Linked DNA regions of Homo sapiens: region 2 is linked to region 1. The links come from fine-mapping of genetic effects on gene expression. Tissue or cell type: whole blood. Region 1 holds a variant in brackets; the other region holds the start of a gene. All regions are shown on one strand. Distances are from middle to middle.

Region 1 (10,177 bases):
GGCAACTCAGGACAGATCCTTGAAAGAAGGAAACAAACGGCGTGGACTCTATAATTGCCCTGGCTGCTGCCTTAAAAGAACGTGCAGGATGAGCTGCAGAGAGGGGAAACTGAGGCAGAGCCCAACAAACCCCTCAGTTGAGGAAAATGAGCAGAGAATCTGGGGAACAAGGCACACAGTCAGAGTTTTAAAATTCAAAGGGCAGAGCAGCGAAGAGGAGAGAGAGGACCCTGAGTAGAGGGAGGACCCTGAGTAGAGGGAGGACCCTGCAGCCCGCAGGAGGCCCTGGAGTGTTCAGCAGAGCACCATTCAGCACACCTGGGACAAAACTCCACGAGGCTGGGGAAGAACCGTCTGAAGAATTAAGAGGGACCAGGACCTGGGCCTCACACAGGACTGGGCATGGTGCCTGTTCTCCTCAGCCAGGCTGGAAAAACTCAGAGGTCACAGGAAGCGGGGGCAAGCTTTCAGAAGGGTCTTGCCACAGTCATGGGGAACCATTGGTGTGAGGCAGACGGGTCTCCAGCAGACCTGTCTAACAAATCATAAAAGCAAGACCCAAGAGGATTAAACTGTCTCCAAGTCACTGAACTGTGCCCCAGAACAAAGCTCAAGAATATTTATAGGAATACAAAAATATCCAATACCCAACAAGGTAAAATTTACAATGTCTGGCATCCAATCAAAGATTATGAGGCATGCAAAGAATGCAGGAAAGTATGGCCCATAACAAGGAGAAAAATCCATCTACTGAAACCGGTCCAAAACTGACACGGATGTTAGAATCAGCAGTAGAGGACATTCAAGCATGGTGATCATAACTGTATTCCATGTTCCAAAGTTAAATAGACACACAGAAGATATAAACAAGAACAAAGAGCCGGGCGCAGTGACTCACACCCGTAATCCCAGCACTTTGGGAGGCCAAGGTTGGCAGATCACCTGAGGTCAGGAGTTTGAGACCAGCCTGGCCAACATGTCAAAACCCCGTCTCTACTAAAAATACAAAAAATTAGCTGGGTGTGGTGGCACGTGTCTGTCATCCCAGCTACTTGGGAGGCTGAGGCAGGAGAATCATTTGAACCTGGGAGGTGGAGGTTGCAGTGAGCCGAGATTGTACTACTGCACTCCAGCCTGGGAGACAGAGTGAGACTGTCTCAAAAAATTAACAAATAAATAAATAAATAAGAAAAAAGAACAAAGTCAAACTTCTGGAGATGAAAATTATAATGTATGAGATAAAAAATATGCTGGATGTGATTCACAACAGGTTAAACATCGCAGAAGAAAAGATTTATGAACCTGGAAATGCAGTTGACCCTTGGCCAACGTGGGGATGAGGGCCGCTGACCCTCCATGCGGCTGAACATCCACATGTCAATTCCGACTCCCCACAGCTTTAATAGCACACTGTTGACCAGAAGCCTTACTGATAACAGAAACTGTTGATTAACACATATTGTGTATGTTATATCTATTAAACACTGTATTCTTATAATAAAGTAAGCTAGAAAAAAGAAAATGTTATTAAGAAAATCATAGTAAAAGAAAACAAGTCTGGGCACAGTGGCTCACGCCTGTAATCCCAGCACCTTGGGAGGCTGAGGCAGGCGGATCACAAGGTCAGGAGTTTGAGACCGCCCTGGCCAATATGGTGAAACCCCGTCTCTACTAAAAATACAAATATCAGCCGGGCGTGGTGGCGGGTGCCTGTAGTCCCAGCTACTCGGGAGGCTGAGGCAGGAGAATCACTTGAACCCGGGAGGTGGAGGTTGCAATGAGCTCTGATCATGCCACTGCACTCCAGCCTGGGCGACAGAGCGAGACAACTCAAAATAAAAAACAAAAAACATATTTACTATTCATTAAGTGGAAGTGGATTATCACAAAGATCATCCTTGCTGTCTTCACATTGAATACACTGAGGAGGAGGAGGAAGAAGAGGGGTTGGTCTTGCTGTTTTTGGGGTGGCCAAGGCAGAGGAAAACCTGTGTATGAGTGGATCCCACAGTTCAAACCTGTTTTTGTTCAAGGGTCAACTGTACAGCTATAGAAGCCATCCCAAGTGGACCATCGAGGGAAAAAAAGAGTTAAAAAGAAAAAACAGAAGGAAGAAAGGAAGGGAACCAGCAAACAGTGGGACAACCTCAAGTAGCCCAATCATGGGTAACACATGGGAGAGGCTGTGCCAGAAAGATTACTGGAAGAAATAATGGTTGAAAAATTTCCAAATTTAATGAAAACACCTGAGGTCAGGAGTTTGAGACCAATCTGGCCTACATGGCCAAACCCTGTCTCTACTAAAAATACAAAAAAAATTAGCTGGGTGTGGTGGCGGGCGCCTGTAATCCCAGCTACTTGGGAGGCTGAGGCAGGAGAATTGCTTGAACCTGGGAGGCAGAGGTTGCAGTGAGCCGAGATCGCGCCATTGCACTCCAGCCTGGGTGACAGAGCAGAACTCCATCTCAAAAAAAAAAGAAACTAAAATCAAGATGTTTCCAGACATACAAAAGCGGAAAGAATTCATCACTAGCAAACCTGTACTACAAGAAATGTTAAAGATTAAGTCCTTCAGGCAGAGGAAAATGAGAGCAGATGGAAATATGGACCCACAGGAAGAAGCGAGAAGAACCAGAAGCCACAGCAATGTGGGTCAACAGAAGAGACTGCTTACTGTTTATTAAGTACACATTAAAACCTAAGTGGTCATTTAAATAAAAATAACAACGTATTATTAATTTTATTACATATATGAACATAAAATGTATGAAAACAACTGCATAAAATTGGGACTGGCAAAAAAGGTATATAATTGTACAGTTCTTACGCATGAAGTAGTATATTACATCTCTTGAAAATAACTGTGTCACAGCTTGCCAGGAGTAAAGAATAAAATAAAAAAGAAAGAAAGAAACTGTGGTAAGTCAAGATGTACCTCTGCTACCCCTGACACAGCAAGACCAACCCTTCCTCCTCCAATACATTTATGATGATCCCCTTTTACTTAACGAGTTGTAAAACCCTAAAGTAATCCCTCAAATAACAAAACAAAGAGTTATAATTAATACATTAACAGAGGGCCAGGCGTGGTGGCTCACACCTGTAATCCCAGCACTTTGGGAGGCCCAGGTGGGCAGATTGCTTGAGACCAGGAGTTTAAGAGCAGCCTGGGCAACAGAGTGAGACCTCATCTCTAAAAGAAAAAAAAATTTTTTTAAATTAACCAGGCGTGGTGGTGTGCACCTATAGTCCCAGCTACTCAGGAGGCTGAGGCAGGAGGATTACTTGAGCCCAGGAGGTCAAGGCTGCAGTGAGCTATGATTTCACTACTGTACTTCAGCCTGGGTGACAGTGAGACCTTGTCTCAAAAAAGAAAAAATCAGTTAGAAAAACAAACAAACAAACAAACAAAAAAATATATATATATATAAAAAAAATCAGAGATGATAAAATGGAATCATAAAAAATGCCCAATTCAAAAAAGATAAAAATAGATATAGAGGGGAAACAAACAGCTGGGGCAAATTAAAAAATAGTAAAATGGTAAATTTAATCCTACTGTGTCAATAACCATATTAAATGTGAATGGTATAAACAGTTCAGTTAAAAGGCAGAGATTGTTAGACTGGATAAAAAGCAAGACGACGATATGCTGTCTACAAAAAGTACACTTTAAAAACATAGGCAGGTTAAAAGTAAAAGGATGGATAGAGCTACACCATGCTAATGCTAGTCAAAAGAAATAAAAAGTGACCATATTAATATCACAGAAAGTAGATGTAAGAGTAAGGGCAGTTACTAGGGATAAAGAAAGTAATTTCACAGTGATAAGGGATCAACTGATTAAACTACATAAAAATCCTAAATGTGTATGCCCCCAATAACAGAGCCCCAAAATACATGAACCAAAAATTGAAAGAAAGAAAAGCAGAACATTTTTTC[A/C]TGTGTTTTTTGGTGCATAAATGTCTTCTTTTGAGAAGTGTCTGTTCATGTCCTTTGCCCACTTTTTGATGGGGTTGTTTTTTTCTTGTAAATTTGAGTTCATTGTAGATTCTGGATATTAGCCCTTTGTCAGATGAGTAGGTTGCAAAAATTTTCTCCCATTTTGTGGGTTGCCTGTTCACTCTGATGGTAGTCTCTTTTGCTGTGCAGAAGCTCTTTAGTTTAATTAGATCCCATTTGTCAATTTTGGCTTTTGTTGCCATTGCTTTCGGTGTTTTAGACATGAAGTCCTTGCCCATGCCTATGTCCTGAATGGTAAAGCCTAGGTTTTCTTCTAGGGTTTTTATGGTTTTAGGTCTAACGTTTAAATCTTTAATCCATCTTGAATTAATTTTTGTATAAGGTGTAAGGAAGGGATCTAGTTTCAGCTTTCTACATATGGCTAGCCAGTTTTCCCAGCACCATTTATTAAATAGGGAATCCTTTCCCCATTGCTTGTTTTTCTCAGGTTTGTCAAAGATCAGATAGTTGTAGATACGCAGCGTTATTTCTGAGGGCTCTGCTCTGTTCCATTGATCTATATTTCTGTTTTGGTACCAGTACCATGCTGTTTTGGTTACTGTAGCCTTGTAGTATAGTTTGAAGTCAGGTAGCATGATACCTCCAGCTTTGTTCTTTTGGCTTAGGATTGACTTGGTGATGCAGGCTCTTTTTTGGTGCCATATGAACTTTAAAGTAGTTTTTTCCAATTCTGTGAAGAAAGTCATTGGTAGCTTGATGGGGATGGCATTGAATCTATAAATTACCTTGGGCAGTATGGCCATTTTCACGATATTGATTCTTCCTACCCATGAGCATGGAATGTTCTTCCATTTGTTTGTATCCTCTTTTATTTCACTGAGCAGTGGTTTGTAGTTCTCCTTGAAGAGGTCCTTCACGTCCCTTGTAAGTTGGATTCCTAGGTATTTTATTCTCTTTGAAGCAATTGTGAATGGGAGTTCACTCATGATTTGGCTGTTTGTCTGTTATTGGTGTATAAGAATGTTTGTGATTTTTGTACATTGATTTTGTATCCTGAGACTTTGCTGAAGTTGCTTATCAGCTTAAGGAGATTTTGGGCTGAGACAATGGGGTTTTCTAGATATACAATCATGTCATCTGCAAACAGGGACAATTTGACTTCCTCTTTTCCTAACTGAATACCCTTTATTTCCTTCTCCTGCCTAATTGCCCTGGCCAGAACTTCCAACACTATGTTGAATAGGAGTGGTGAGAGAGGGCATCCCTGTCTTGTGCCAGTTTTCAAAGGGAATGCTTCCAGTTTTTGCCCATTCAGTATGATATTGGCTGTGGGTTTGTCATAGGCAGCCAAAAAACACATGAAGAAATGCTTACCATCACTGGCTATCAGAGAAATGCAAATCAAAACCACAATGAGATACCATCTCAAACCAGTTAGAATGGCAATCATTAAAAAGTCAGGAAACAACAGGTGCTGGAGAGGATGTGGAGAAATAGGAACACTTTTACACTGTTGGTGGGACTGTAAACTAGTTCAACCATTGTGGAAGTCAGTGTGGCGATTCCTCAGGGATCTAGAACTAGAAATACCATTTGACCCAGCCATCCCATTACTGGGTATATACCCAAAGGACTATAAATCATGCTGCTATAAAGACACATGCACACGTATGTTTATTGCGGCACTATTCACAATAGCAAAGACTTGGAACCAACCCAAATGTCCAACAATGATAGACTGGATTAAGAAAATGTGGCACATATACACCATGGAATACTATGCAGCCATAAAAAATGATGAGTTCGTGTCCTTTGTAGGGACATGGATGAAATTCGAAATCATCATTCTCAGTAAACTATCGCAAGAACAAAAAACCAAACACCGCATATTCTCACTCATAGGTGGGAATTGAACAATGAGAACACATGGACACAGGAAGGGGAACATCACACTCTGGGGACTGTTGTGGGGTGGGGGGAGGTGGGAGGGATAGCTTTAGGAGATATACTTAATGCTAAATGACCAGTTAATGGTTGCAGTACACCAACATGGCACATGTATACATATGTAACTAACCTGCACATTGTGCACAGGTACCTAAAACTTTAAGTATAATAATAATAAAATTAAAAAAAAAATAAAAGCAGAAATAGGCAAATCTTTTGTTTGTTTGCTTGTTTTGAGACAGGATCTTGCTCTGTCACCCAGGCTGTAGTACAGTGGTGCGATCTCAGCTCACTGCAACCTCCGCCTCCCAGGTTCAAGCAATTCTCCTGCCTCAGCCTCCCAAGTAGCTGGGATTACAGGTGTGAACCACCATGCCTGGCTAATTTTTGTATTTTTAGTAGAGATTTTAGTAGAGATGGGGCTTCACCATGTTGGCCAGGCTGGTCTCAAACTCCTGACTTCAAGTGATGTGCTCGCCTCAGCCTCTCAAAATGCTAGGATGACAGGTATGAGGCACTGCACCCAGCAAGGCAAATCTATCATAGTCAGATATTTCAATATGCTACTCTCAATAACTGATAAAACAAGCAGACAGAAAATCAGCAAGGACATAGTATACATACATACACAGAATATCAATAATATCAACAAAATACATAGAAAAATACATAGAAAAATACATAGAAAAACACATAGAAAAATACATAGAAAAATACGTAGAAAAACAATAATATCAACAAAATTGACCTGATTTATAAAATATTGTACACAACAAAATTCACATTCTTCTCAAGTGCACACAAACTCTTCCCGAAAATTGAAGAGAGAATTTTTCCCAATTCACTCATTCTATGAGGACAGCATTACCTTGATAGCAAAACTAGACAAAGACATTACAAGAAAAGAAAATTTCATGCCAATATCCTTCACGAACAGGGATGCAGAAATTCCCAAAAAAACTTTAGCAAACTGAAGGACAAGATAATTCATTGCTCTATCAAAAAAAAAAAAAAAAAAGAAAAAGAAAAAAGGCCAGGCTTGGTGGCTTATGCCTGTGATCCCAGTATTTTGGGAGACTGAGGTGGGAGGATCGCTTGAGCCTGGGAGTTTGAGACCAGCCTGGGCAACATAGTGAGATTCTGTCTCTACAAAAAAAAAAATTACAAAAACAAACAAAAAGATAATTGGGGAAAGAATACTCTTTTTAACAAATGATCTTAAGACAAATAGATACCCACATTCAAAGGAATATACAGCAGTTGGACCCCTTCCTTACACCAAACAAAAAGATTAATACCGAACGGTTCACAGTCCTAAATGTAAGAGCTAAAAATATGTCATTTTTTTTTGAGATGGAGTCTTGCTCTGGGGTGCAGTGGCGTGATCTCGGCTCACTGCAACCTCTGCCTCCTGGGTTCAAGCAATTCTCCCTGCCTCAGCCTCTCAAGTAGCTGGGACTACAGGCACCCGCCACTATGCCCAGCTAGTTTTCGTATTTTTTAGTGGTGACAGGGTTTTGCCACGTTGGCCAGGCTGGTCTTGAACTCCTGACCTCAGGTGATCCACCTGCCTTGGCCTCTCAAAGTGCTGGGATTACAGGCGTGAGCCACCGTGCCTGGCCTAAAAATATAAAATTCTTAAAAGAAAACACAGGAGTAAATCTCCATGACTCCAGACTAAGCAAAGTCTTCATAGATATGACATCAAAAGCAACAAAAAGAAAAAGAGAGAATTGGGTTTCATCGAAACTTAAAACTTTTGTGTTTCAAAGGACACCAGCAAGAAACTGTCTGACTGCCCACAAAATGGAAAAATGTATTTGCAAATTAGATATCTGATAAGGGGCTTGTGTCTAGAATATGTCAAGAACTCTTACGACATCTTGATGCAGAGCAGGTGAGCTCTACAGCAGGGCTTAGCCTGTGAGGGTTCTTGGCTTTGGCCAGGGAAGGATTTAAGGGTGAATGGGAGGTATGGAAGCGGCAGGGCTACAGCTCCTGCAGAGCGGGGCTGCCCCCCAGGCAGAAAGCAGCAGCTCAGGGCAGTGTCGCAGTCATATTTATACCCACTTTTAACTGCGTGCAGATCAAGGGGTGGTTTATGTGGACATTTCTAGGGAAGCGGCAGTAACTTTTGGGTCATCAGGCCATTGCCATGGAAAGGGGTGGTAACTCCCAGGTGTTGCCATGGTGATGGTAAACTGGCATGATGCGTTGGTGGGCGTGTCTTATGGAAGGCTGCTTCCTCCCTGACCCTGTTTTATCTAGTCCTCAATTTGGTCTTGTGTCTGAGCCCCACTTCTGGAGTCAAGTTCTGCCTCTTATCTCCATTTCTCCAACTAAGATCTACAAATGGCCCATAGCACACAAAAAGATGCTCAACATCATTAGCCTTTAGGGAAATGTAAATCCAAACCACAAGAAGGCACCACTTCACACCCACAAAGATGGCTACATCCAAAAGACAGACAGGCCAGCACGGTGGCTCATGCTTGTAATCCCAGCACTTTGGGAGGCTGAGGCGGGTGGATCACAAGGTCAGAAGATGGAGACCATTCTGGCCAACATGGTGAAACCCTGTCTCTACTAAAAATACAAAAATTAGCTGGGCGTGGTGGTGGGTGCCTGTAGTGCCAGCTACTTGGGAGGCTGAGGCAGGAGAATCGCTTGAGCCCGGGAAGCAGAGGTTGCAGTGAGCTGAGATTGCACCACTGCACTCCAGCCTGGACAATAAAGCAAGACCCAGTCTCAAAAAAAAAAAAAGGCGGGGGGCAGTGGCTGATGCCTGTAATCCCAGCACTTTGGGAGGCCGAGGGTGGTGGATCAAGAAGTCAGGAGATTGAGATCATCCTGGCTAGCAGGGTGAAACCCTGTCTGTACTAAAAAAATACAAAAAAATTAGCCGGGCATGGTGGCAGGCGCCTGTAGTCTCAGCTACTCAGGAGGCTGAGGCAGGAGAATGGTGTGAACCCAGGAGGTGGAGCTTGCAGTGAGCCGAGATTGAGCCACTGCACTCTAGCCTGGATGACAGAGCAAAACTCAGTCTCAGAAAAAAAAAAAAAAAAAAAAGAAGACAGACAATAGCAAGTACTGAGGAGGGTGTAAAGCCATTGGAACCCTCTTTCATTGCTGGAGGTAATGTAAAAACCTTGCAGCTTTTCATGTTCAGACTGAAAAGGAAGAAGTAAAACTGTATTTATTTATAAACAATATGATCGTATATAGAGAAAATCTTAAGGAATCCTCTAAGAAACTAGTAGAACTAATAAATGAGTAAAGCAAGTCAAAGGAAATGAGGTCAATATGTAAAAATCAATTGTAGTCTACGGCAACCTCTGAAATGAAGTTAAGAAAATTCTACTCATGATGGCATAAAAAGAATAAACAAATTTATCAGCATTTAGAAATAATTAATAAAATAATTATAATTCAATATCTAATAAATAACATTATTATGTATTAATAGCTTTCACAAAGAAGTGCAAGATGTGTGCTGAAAGGAACAAGACGCTGGTGATAAAGTAAGAACTCTACCTAAATGGAGAGATGCTTCTGTGTTCATGAGATGGAGGCCTCAGTGTTGGTAAGATTTCATCTGGACATTCTCTCCAGAGGGGTTCAACGCACCTCCATCAACATTCCAGCAGCCTTCTTTTGTTGTTGTTGCAGAAGTTGGCAAACTGATCTTAAAATTTTATACAGAAATGTAAAGGTCCCAGCAGAGTCAAGATCATTTTGAAAAGGAAAAACAAAACTGGAGGACTCTCCAATTGGAAAACGTGCTAAAAGCAACAAGAATCCAGATAGCGTGGCCCTGGCATAGACTGAGGATAAATCAGGATAGACAGATCAGTGGAGCAGACGGGGGGTCCAGGCATCAACCCTGACTCTTAGGGCTGACTGATTTTCAACCAAGGTGCCAGGGCAACTCAACGGCAAAAGGACGGTGTTCTCAACAAATGATGCTGGGATGATTGAACATCCCCATGAAGAAAAGATGAATTTAGAACTTTATCTTTTCCATAAAAAATAACTCACACTGGATCCCAGGCCTAAATGTAAGAGCTAGAACTATAAGAGTTCTGGAGGGATACGAGAAAATCTTTGTGAAACTTGGGTTAGGCAAAGAATTCTTAAATACGGTACCAAAACTATGCTCCATAAAAGAAAAAATGGACAAACTGGACTTCAGCAAAATGAAAAACTTTTGCTGTTCCAAAGATAGCATTAGGCAAATGAAAAGATGAGCCGTAGGTGGACGGAAAGC
Region 2 (8,168 bases), 26 kb after region 1:
TGAGGCTCTCCCAGAACAAACTGTCCAGAGAAGGTGTCTCCTGCATGTGGACAAGGAGGAGGGGAGACAGGAGGTTCAGTTCAGGGCTGCGGCCCCAGTCGGCTCTCCTCTGTCCCTGGCCCATGACACGCAGGAACCATTCCAGAATGGACGTCCCTGCCTCCATCATACTACTCAGTCTGCTTCATGAGGGAAAACATGGTAAGCAGGTCTGGTCTCCCCAACAGCTGGGCATGCAGACAGCCCCAGGCAGACACTCTCTTTGGGCATCTATCCCGAGGGCAAAGGACCCTCTGGTCGGTTTGCAGGGTGAAGGGTGAGGTTTTTCCCTGGCTCTTTAAAAACTGAAAGCCAAGCCTGAGAGAAAACACCTCCACTGAGAACCCACCGACCCCTCTGGCGTGAGGGTCTGAGGTTCCTGGACACACAGCTCCCGGCAACGAATCCCCAGAGCTGGTTTCCCATCTAGGGATACAATGTGGCTGAAATAGCTTTAAATAAAAAAGAAATAGTGTAACTTGGGACAGATAAATCTTTATTCTAGAAAAGTGTCTCCGGAAGCCTGAGTTGCTCTCAGCGGTGACCACAGAGCCTCAGTCAGGTCCCCAGGGCTTCTCGGTAGGCCAGGCCTCTCACGGCACAAAGCTTCCCGTCTACACGTCACGCCTTCTGCATCTAGACTCGGCGGACCAACTGAGCCCGATGGGTTATGAGAAAGGAGTGAATGTGCCATCCCAGCTAGAGCTCACCTGACCAGGCCCAGTGCCGGCGGCCTTCTCCCGTGATCTCTCCGTCCACAAACGCCCCTTCGTAATAACTGCCATCTTTAAATAACAACTTCCCGTGACCTGGCAGGAGAAATCGTCACGTGAACTCAGACAGTGGTTGGGTTGACTGCGAATGACACTGTGCAGTGTTGGGCCTGTTTCTCAGAACCAAGAGCTTGGCTTCAAAACTTGTGTTTGGCTCCATCACTCATGCTATACATGTATTTAAAAATAAAAAAATGTTCTCAAAAATATCTGCCGAAACACGCTTGAGCGGCCGGCGCCTTCAGCCAGAACAAGCACAGGAATCGAAGTGCAGGCAGCCAGCCTGAGCAACACGGAGAGACCCCGTCTCTACACAAAATTTTAAAAATTAGCCAGGTGTGGTGGTACGTGTTTGTGGGTCCAGCTGCTCAGGAGGCTGAGGTGGGAGGATCCCTTGAGTCAGGAGGTTGAGGCTGCAGAGAGCCATGATTGCATCACTGCACTCCAGCCTGGGCGACAGAGCAAGACTGTCTCAAAAAAAAAAAAAAAAAAAAAAAAAGAGAGAGAGAGAAGAAAACTAGGCAGAGTGGCTGGGCGCAGTGGCTCATGCCTGTAATCTCAGCACTTTGGGAGGTTGAGGTGGGCAGATCACCTGAGGTCAGGAGTTCGAGACCAGCCAGGCCAACATGGCAAAACTGCATCTCTACTAAAAATACAAAAATTAGCTGGGCGTGGTGGCAGGTGCCTGTAATCCCAGCTACTCATGAGGCTGAGGCAGGAGAATCACTTGAACCTGGGAGCCGGAGGTTGCAGTGAGCCGAGATGGCAGCATTGCACTCCAGCCTGGGCAACAAGAGCAAAACTCTGTCTCCAAAAAAAAAAAAAAAGAAAAAAGAAACAAAACTGGCAGAGAGCAGATACAAAACTGCGTGAGAGGAGTACAGTGGCGGGAACGTCCACACCACCAAAGGTTCACGGCACTTGCCTGGGGTTGGTGGGGGTACAGGTGTTATCGACTTTATACTTGCTTTTTTTGTTCTGTTTTGAGACGGAGTCTCAGTCTGTCACCCAGGCTGGAGTGCAGTGGCACAATCTCAGCTGACTGCAACCTCTGCCTCCTGTGTTCAAGGGATTCTCCTGGCTCAGCCTGCCAAGTAGCTAGGATTACAGGTGTGCCTTACCACAACCAGCTATTATTGTCTTTTTAGTAGGGTCAGGGTTTCAGCATGCTGGTCAGGCTGTTCTGGAACTCCTGACCTCAAGTGATCCGCCCACCTTGGCCTCCCAAAGTACTGGGATTACAGGCGTGAGCCACTGCGCTTGGCTTGACTTTACACTTTCTTTCTTCTATTACTTGGATTTACTACAAGAGTAGGTTCTCTTTATAATAGGAAATAAACCATAAAGCCAGTTTTCAGTCTGGAAAAGACAAATGAACTCAACCTCTAGGGAGAATTTCAAAGTCGCAGCTTCCTTTGCTAAAGGTGGCCCTCCAGGGGGGTCTCCCAGGCCTCTGTTTCCCCTGCCCATCCAGCCTTACCCTGAGCAGCCAGGGAAGCACCAGGGTACAATGGGCTCGAAAGCTACAGGAAATGCCACTTGCCCACCCAACCTCCCGGGGAGAAACTGGTTTCGTCAGCTGTGGGGCAGCAGCTGCAAGAAGAGACCACAGATGCTTCTCACCGTGCTTCCTCCCTGCTTTCCATTCTCCTTCATATCGAAAGAAGGAATTTGGGTATACGTAGACACCATAACCTGAGTATTGAGAAGACACACACAGGTAAGCACAGACACAGAGATGAGGGATGCTCTCCAGTGCTGAAGGAGGGAGTGCAGCTCCCTTGAGGGCCTTCAAGGGGTTGGTACACGTCACCTTCAGCAGACCAGAGGCGACCTGTGGGGCTCATGAGCTCTCCTGTCGACTGTTGGGCCATTCATTTGCTCATTTGTTTATGTGACAAGGATGAGGACCTACTTGGTGCAGAGAAGACAGGCCCAGTAAGAGGAGGGCTGGCTTGAAACAACTGCAGGTCCTTGAGAGACCAGAGGTGCTCGGGAGGTGGTGAGGAGCAGGTTGGGAGCCTTGTTGCAGGAGATGAGTGAGCCAGGGGAAGGCAGAGCGGCAGTGTCAGTGAGGCACACAGGGGAGGAGCAGACTCTCCCATCCCCTGCCGTGGCCCTTCAGTGGCCTCCTATCGCTGGGGAGAAAATCCACACTCATACCCAAGGATGGCCTGGCCGGCTTCATCTCCTCCTAGTTGCTGGGTGTGCCACCCGCCAACTCCTGCAGTTCCAGGAATGGGCAGGGCTCCCTCCCTACCAGCTCCTCAGGCACATTTTGTGGGCAGGGTTTATGGGAAAATGTCGGGGAGGAGGGCAGGGGGTTACTACAGGCTACTGTATCTGTCCCAAATCAGGGTCAGGTTCTACCTGAAGATAGTAGTGTTAGCTCTGAGTTCATTCCAGACCCGTTTATTTGATTCTAGAAACAGTTCCTATCAAAACCTGCTCTTTTTTTTTTTTTTGAGACTGAGTCTTGCTCTGTCGCCCAGGCTGGGGTGCAGCGGCGCGATCTCGGCTCTCTGCAACCTCCGCTTCCTGGGTTCAAGCGATTCTCCTGCCTCAGCCTCCCGAGTAGCTGGAACTACAGGAGGCACCACCCCGGGCCAATTTTTGTATTTTTTAGTAGAGACCGGGTTTCGCCATGTTGGCCACACTGGTCTCGAACTCCTGACCTCAGGTGATCCACCCGCCTCGGCCTCCCAAAGTGCTGGAAGTACAGGCAAAAACTGCTTTTGAAACGCGTCCTAGCGTTTCTGGACAGCACCGGCCAGGAAGTCAGGAGGCTTGGTGCTGCTCCTGCGCCTGCCCTCGCCCCAAGTCCTGGGCTTCGGGATCCCCATGGCAACCCCAGGTCCCGCTGGCTGTGAGGCTGCGGCCGGAACCCGGTCTTCCCGGCTAGGAGCCCGCGGGGGGCGACCCCCTGCAGGGCTTGGCCTGCTGCGGGAGGAGGGCTCGGGGAAGGGTGCGAGCCGAGCCCGAGGCGCACGGCGAGTCCTGTGGGAGTGGGGGACGCGGGGGCGGCCCTGGCTCCGCCGCGGCACCTGGACCTCTACTTTCCGAGGTGAGCATTTGGGGGTCGAGGGCGTAGAGCGATCGCACCCTGAATGGAGCCCAGGGCAGCCAGCGACCTGTCCCGTGGCCCGCAGTCGTTACCGTTCCGGGGCGGCCGCCTAGGCGGGTCCCGACGCGGCCCGCGGGAGCTCGGGGTGCCCTCGCCCGCCGCTGCCATCTTGCCGCCGAGGGTTCTCTTAGCGACCAGCAACGCCCGCTTCCATTGGTCTTTGTCGCAAGGGGGGGTGTGGCCACGGGCCTAGTCCCTGAGCCCGCGCAATCTCTGGAGCGAAGCTAGCCGGGCCCGGAGCCAGAGGACGCAGCTGCGCCTGTGCGCGTTTCCGCCGCTGTCGTCTCTTCCGCCGGGAGGCCCGCCCGCCAACGGCCTGCGCGTCTGCGCCGGAAGCGGAAATGGTTGGAGCCCTTGGCCCCGCCCTCGCGCCATCTTGGGGGCCCTGGAGGCGGCGCCGCGGAGGACGGAGCGGAAGTGCTCGCTGCAGCTTCCCGGAGCCGGAGCGCAGCGCCTGCGGCCGCCCGTGCCCCGCCGTCCTCCTTCCCGCGGCCGTGAGGGAGACCGCGGCTCGGCCGTAGCGGAGCTGCGAGGTGCCAGGAAGGGCTGCGTGGCGCGGGAACGGCCGGGCAGCGCCGCCTCCGCTTCTTCCGGGCTGTCAAGGCCGCGGGCGGGCGGGGCCGCGCTGAGGGCCGGGCGGGGAGGGCCGTCGGGGCCCGGGTGGCCGCGGGGACCGTGTTCCCGACCCGCGGCCCTGAGGGGTACGGGTCGCGCCTCGGGGTCGGGCCCGGGACGGGGTGCTGGGGGGTGCGGCGGAGCCCTGGGGCCTGCGAGGGTCGGGGGAGCGGGAGAGGGGCCGGGCGGGGGCTGCAGCCCTCGAGCCACCCGGGCCGCATCTCGTCCGCATCCCCTGCTTGGCATCTGGGGGAAGCGGGCAGTCGCGGCCCCCACAGCGCTGCGAGTTGGGCTGTATTCCAGAGTAATGTGCCCTGTCCCCATCCTGCGTCCAGGTCAGCGCTTATCTGTAGGATTTAGTGTTAAGCTCTGGGGTGAAGGCGTTACTGACGGGCTGAAGGGAAACTAGTTACATCGGTTTTGATCGTATTCTAAATAGGCAATAAAATCATAAATTCTCCAGGCTGACTTAGTACTGGTCTGTGGCCCCACTGATAAAGGTATCGTTCGTTTCTCTGCCAGGTGTCTCACAGCACAGAGGGCTGCTTTCAGCCTAAGTACCTTCAGTGGGCTTTTGCCCTTTTCCCTTTATGAAGAGTAGAGACTGGCCGCTAGTCCTGGAAGCACTTTATTTTTAGTTGAGTTGACATTTCCCAGGAAGATGCAGTTATCCCCGTAAGTGGATAAAGGGTTCTCAGTAATTCAGACTCTCACATGGCTTCTGCCGTATGCCTGAGGTGACGGCGACGGCGGTAACAGTGTGTCAGAGCCAGGTGGAGATATAAGATGGTCAGGCCCAGAGGAGCGGGGAGCCCAGGCTGGAATGTGGCCTTGGGAAGGAGGAAGAGACGGGGTCTGGGAGGGCATTTCAGAGGACTGAACAACACCAGAGGCGTGAAGCTTGGTGCACGGCAGCCGGGGGCTTTCTTAGTCCCGGAGGAATTGGGGATGGGGACGTGAAGAGAAAGGTGGGAGCCAGACTGTCAATGCTCCCGGACGCCAGGCAGAGGACTTCATCCTTTCCACGTGCAGAGTGATGGACCACAGATGTGGATGAATGTGACGGGCCTGGAACAAGGCACATAGAGAGTCTTACACTTTCTGGCACGTCCTCATGGTCTCTGCTTGGACTGGTTTTATCTCCCTTTCTGTTTTGTTTGTGACCAGGCATAAAGCAGTCACCTTCAACAGGTAATTGATGGGCTGTCTACTATGTAATGGACTTCCAGGTGGCAGGGCCCAGCCCCGAACCAGACAAGGGACCCCTCAAGGAGCTTCATTCTAGCAGGAGAAAATTGAGAAGTAAACCAGAAAGGTATCAGGAAACAGTTGTACACAAAATAAAAATAGGGTGATGTGATGTAAGGGACTGGGGGTCAGTGTGGGCGGTAACGGAGGCCTGTGAAGAGGAGGTGGGCTTCAAACTGAGCAGAGAAGAGGACTGCAGAGGGGGCAGCTGGTGTGAGGGCTGGCCCTGATCCAGGAACAGGGCTGGCACTGCCTTGCCCGGCTCCAAGGGTGCTCCACGGGCTGCCCACTGATTCCTCACGAGAGCCTTGTGGAGAAGGCATGAGAGGTGCTGTTGTCCCATTTCACAGACTGGAACCTGAGGCATCCTGGAATAGCCTGTCCTAGTCACACTGGCAGAGAGTGGTAGAGCCAGGATCTGAAAGCAGGCTGTTGGAGTCCAAAGTTCACGTTCTTGCTCCTGCCGCCCTGCCTCAGGCTATTCCTGGCAATGCGTTCAGTCAGGGTGCAAGCTGTGTTTGGTATACGTGTGTGTTTGGTATACGTGTTGTGTGTGTCAGACAAGCAGGATTGGCTGATGGCGTTTTGAGTAGGTTTTCTACATGTTCAGTTGGAGAGTGAGAAGTTCTGAGCTTTGCCTAGAGAACACCCTTTGGCGGGAGAGCTGGGTATTTTCTCCCTGACATTACTCTCATCACCTCCAGTCCAGTAAAAGTGCTTTAATGGGAAACAGTCTGAGTAAAACGGGGAAACTTACAAGGAGCTATAGGACGAACAATGTGACGGGTGGCTTTCAGATGGCCTGGCTTTGGCCTAAATAGGGTGGCCATTCCAGGTGACACATTTTAGTGTAGCCTCTATTTAAATATGGAGTTCTTTCAGTGGAGAGTAAAGGTGCTCCTCCTCTGTGTCTGGTTTACACGGCTCCGCGAGACCAAAGGGCCCCTCGGTCTCCTTGAGCAGCCTGGCACTCTGCACAGAGGATCCAGGAACGGTGTCATGGAGCCACATTCTGCACAGACTTGATGATGTGGAGGGAGCTGCCTGGATCACTTCAGCGCATCAGTTGTGATGGGAGAGCCAAGGCACTTGAGGGCGGGATTGCGTCTGGCCACCTGTTGCCTTCCACCTGAAGGGAAGATTTCCCCAGTGCTCACAGTGAGGATGGGACTGGAAAAGCGTTGGTTTCAGGAAGGTGCAGGTTCTGGCTCCTGCCCACTGCGAACATGCTGATGGGCCAGGGCAACTCTTTAGTCTTTGTGAGCTTCAGTTTTCTTATCTGTAAATGAGAACAATAAGACTGACCCCAACTGTTGCTGAGGAATGATGTCTTTGCTTTCATGTCTGGTATTTCTTAGAGCCTCATTTTACAGATGAGGAAACTGAGGCTGGCTGCGTGCTCAGAGGGTTTGCTGAAGGCCTCACAGCCGCTTAGCACAGGTGGGACTTTAAGCCAAACTTGAGACCAGAGTCTGTTTCTCCTCACTGCCCTGCCGAGGGAGCAGATGGGGGGTGGTGGGGGAGGTGAACGTCACCCCTGGCGTCTTCTCTAGCTCAGGGGCCAGGAGGCCTCTCATCTTTAAAGTAGGAATGACAACCGGCAGGCCCTGGGTACTGAGCTGTGCTTTACCGAAGAGCGGCAGGTCCTGACGCCGTCTCCTCTCAGGAGTGGGGTGGCGGCGTGCTCAGCTGAGGAGCCAGGTGGCAGTCAGGCTTGGCTTGGCCTGCCCAGAAGCAGGGCTGTGGCAGGACCTTGGACACGTGGCTTCCACTGTTTGAGACTTGGTGAAATGGGGGTCATGATGCCCTTCACTTGAGCATCTGGGAATTAAGTGGGTGAACAATGTGACCTCTGGCACCTGGGTTCTCAGGTGAATTCCTCATGGCATCACAGCAGTGTTGAAATAGGAGCAGATACGTTACCTCCGCTTGCCAGATAAGAAACTGGGACGCAGATGGATGGACTACCTGAGAGTTGTAGATAACATTTTCCTGTTCATGGGGTGGAGGACCTGGCCCTGAGAGGACAGGATCCCTCCTGCTCCTGCCAGACCAGAGACCCAGGACAGGGCGTGGAGCAGACAAGGTGCCTGGGCGGGGGAACCCTGAGGGATCCACAGAGGGTGCGGTCCTTGGAGGGAGGACATGCAGTGCCACGTGCCATGGACCAGCCAGTGGACCCCATGGCCAGCAAGGCTGCTCCTGGGGCCAGTGGGGTGGACAGTCCCGCCCACGCAGGTGACTGAGGTGCCAGTGTGGGAATGAAAATGCGGCCTGTGCTCCTGGGCCCATGCGTCTCACGCTGCCCTTCCTCTCCAGGGAAGCCTGTGTACCTGCTACTTTTTCCCGAACAATTCATGGTAAAAACA

Evidence for each region. PIP is the estimated chance that this variant, and not a neighbour inherited with it, causes the effect.
Region 2: it holds the start of MORN1, and the variant in region 1 is fine-mapped to the expression of MORN1 in whole blood (TOPMed, PIP above 0.99). The same link has a PIP of 0.9 or more in pancreas and tibial nerve.

The regions. Positions count from the first base shown.
Region 1 is chr1:2,360,397-2,370,573 of GRCh38, forward strand. All of the region lies in intron 8 of MORN1 (MORN repeat containing 1), which reads right to left. Among named protein-coding and RNA genes, the nearest start is that of MORN1, 26 kb to the right of the region's middle. The variant A/C (reference allele first, on the strand shown) is at 3,943.
Region 2 is chr1:2,387,490-2,395,657 of GRCh38, forward strand. MORN1 (MORN repeat containing 1) reads right to left here and starts at 4,065. Exons shown (of 14, transcript NM_024848.3): 1 at 3,969-4,065; 2 at 2,436-2,507; 3 at 750-848; 4 at 1-40. The coding sequence starts at 4,044. RER1 (retention in endoplasmic reticulum sorting receptor 1) reads left to right here and starts at 4,352. Exons shown (of 7, transcript NM_007033.5): 1 at 4,352-4,469. RefSeq lists enhancers at 572-621, 682-851, 962-1,081, 4,061-4,355, 4,224-5,096 and silencers at 1,142-1,311, 3,638-3,767, 3,928-3,997, 4,128-4,237, 4,338-4,637.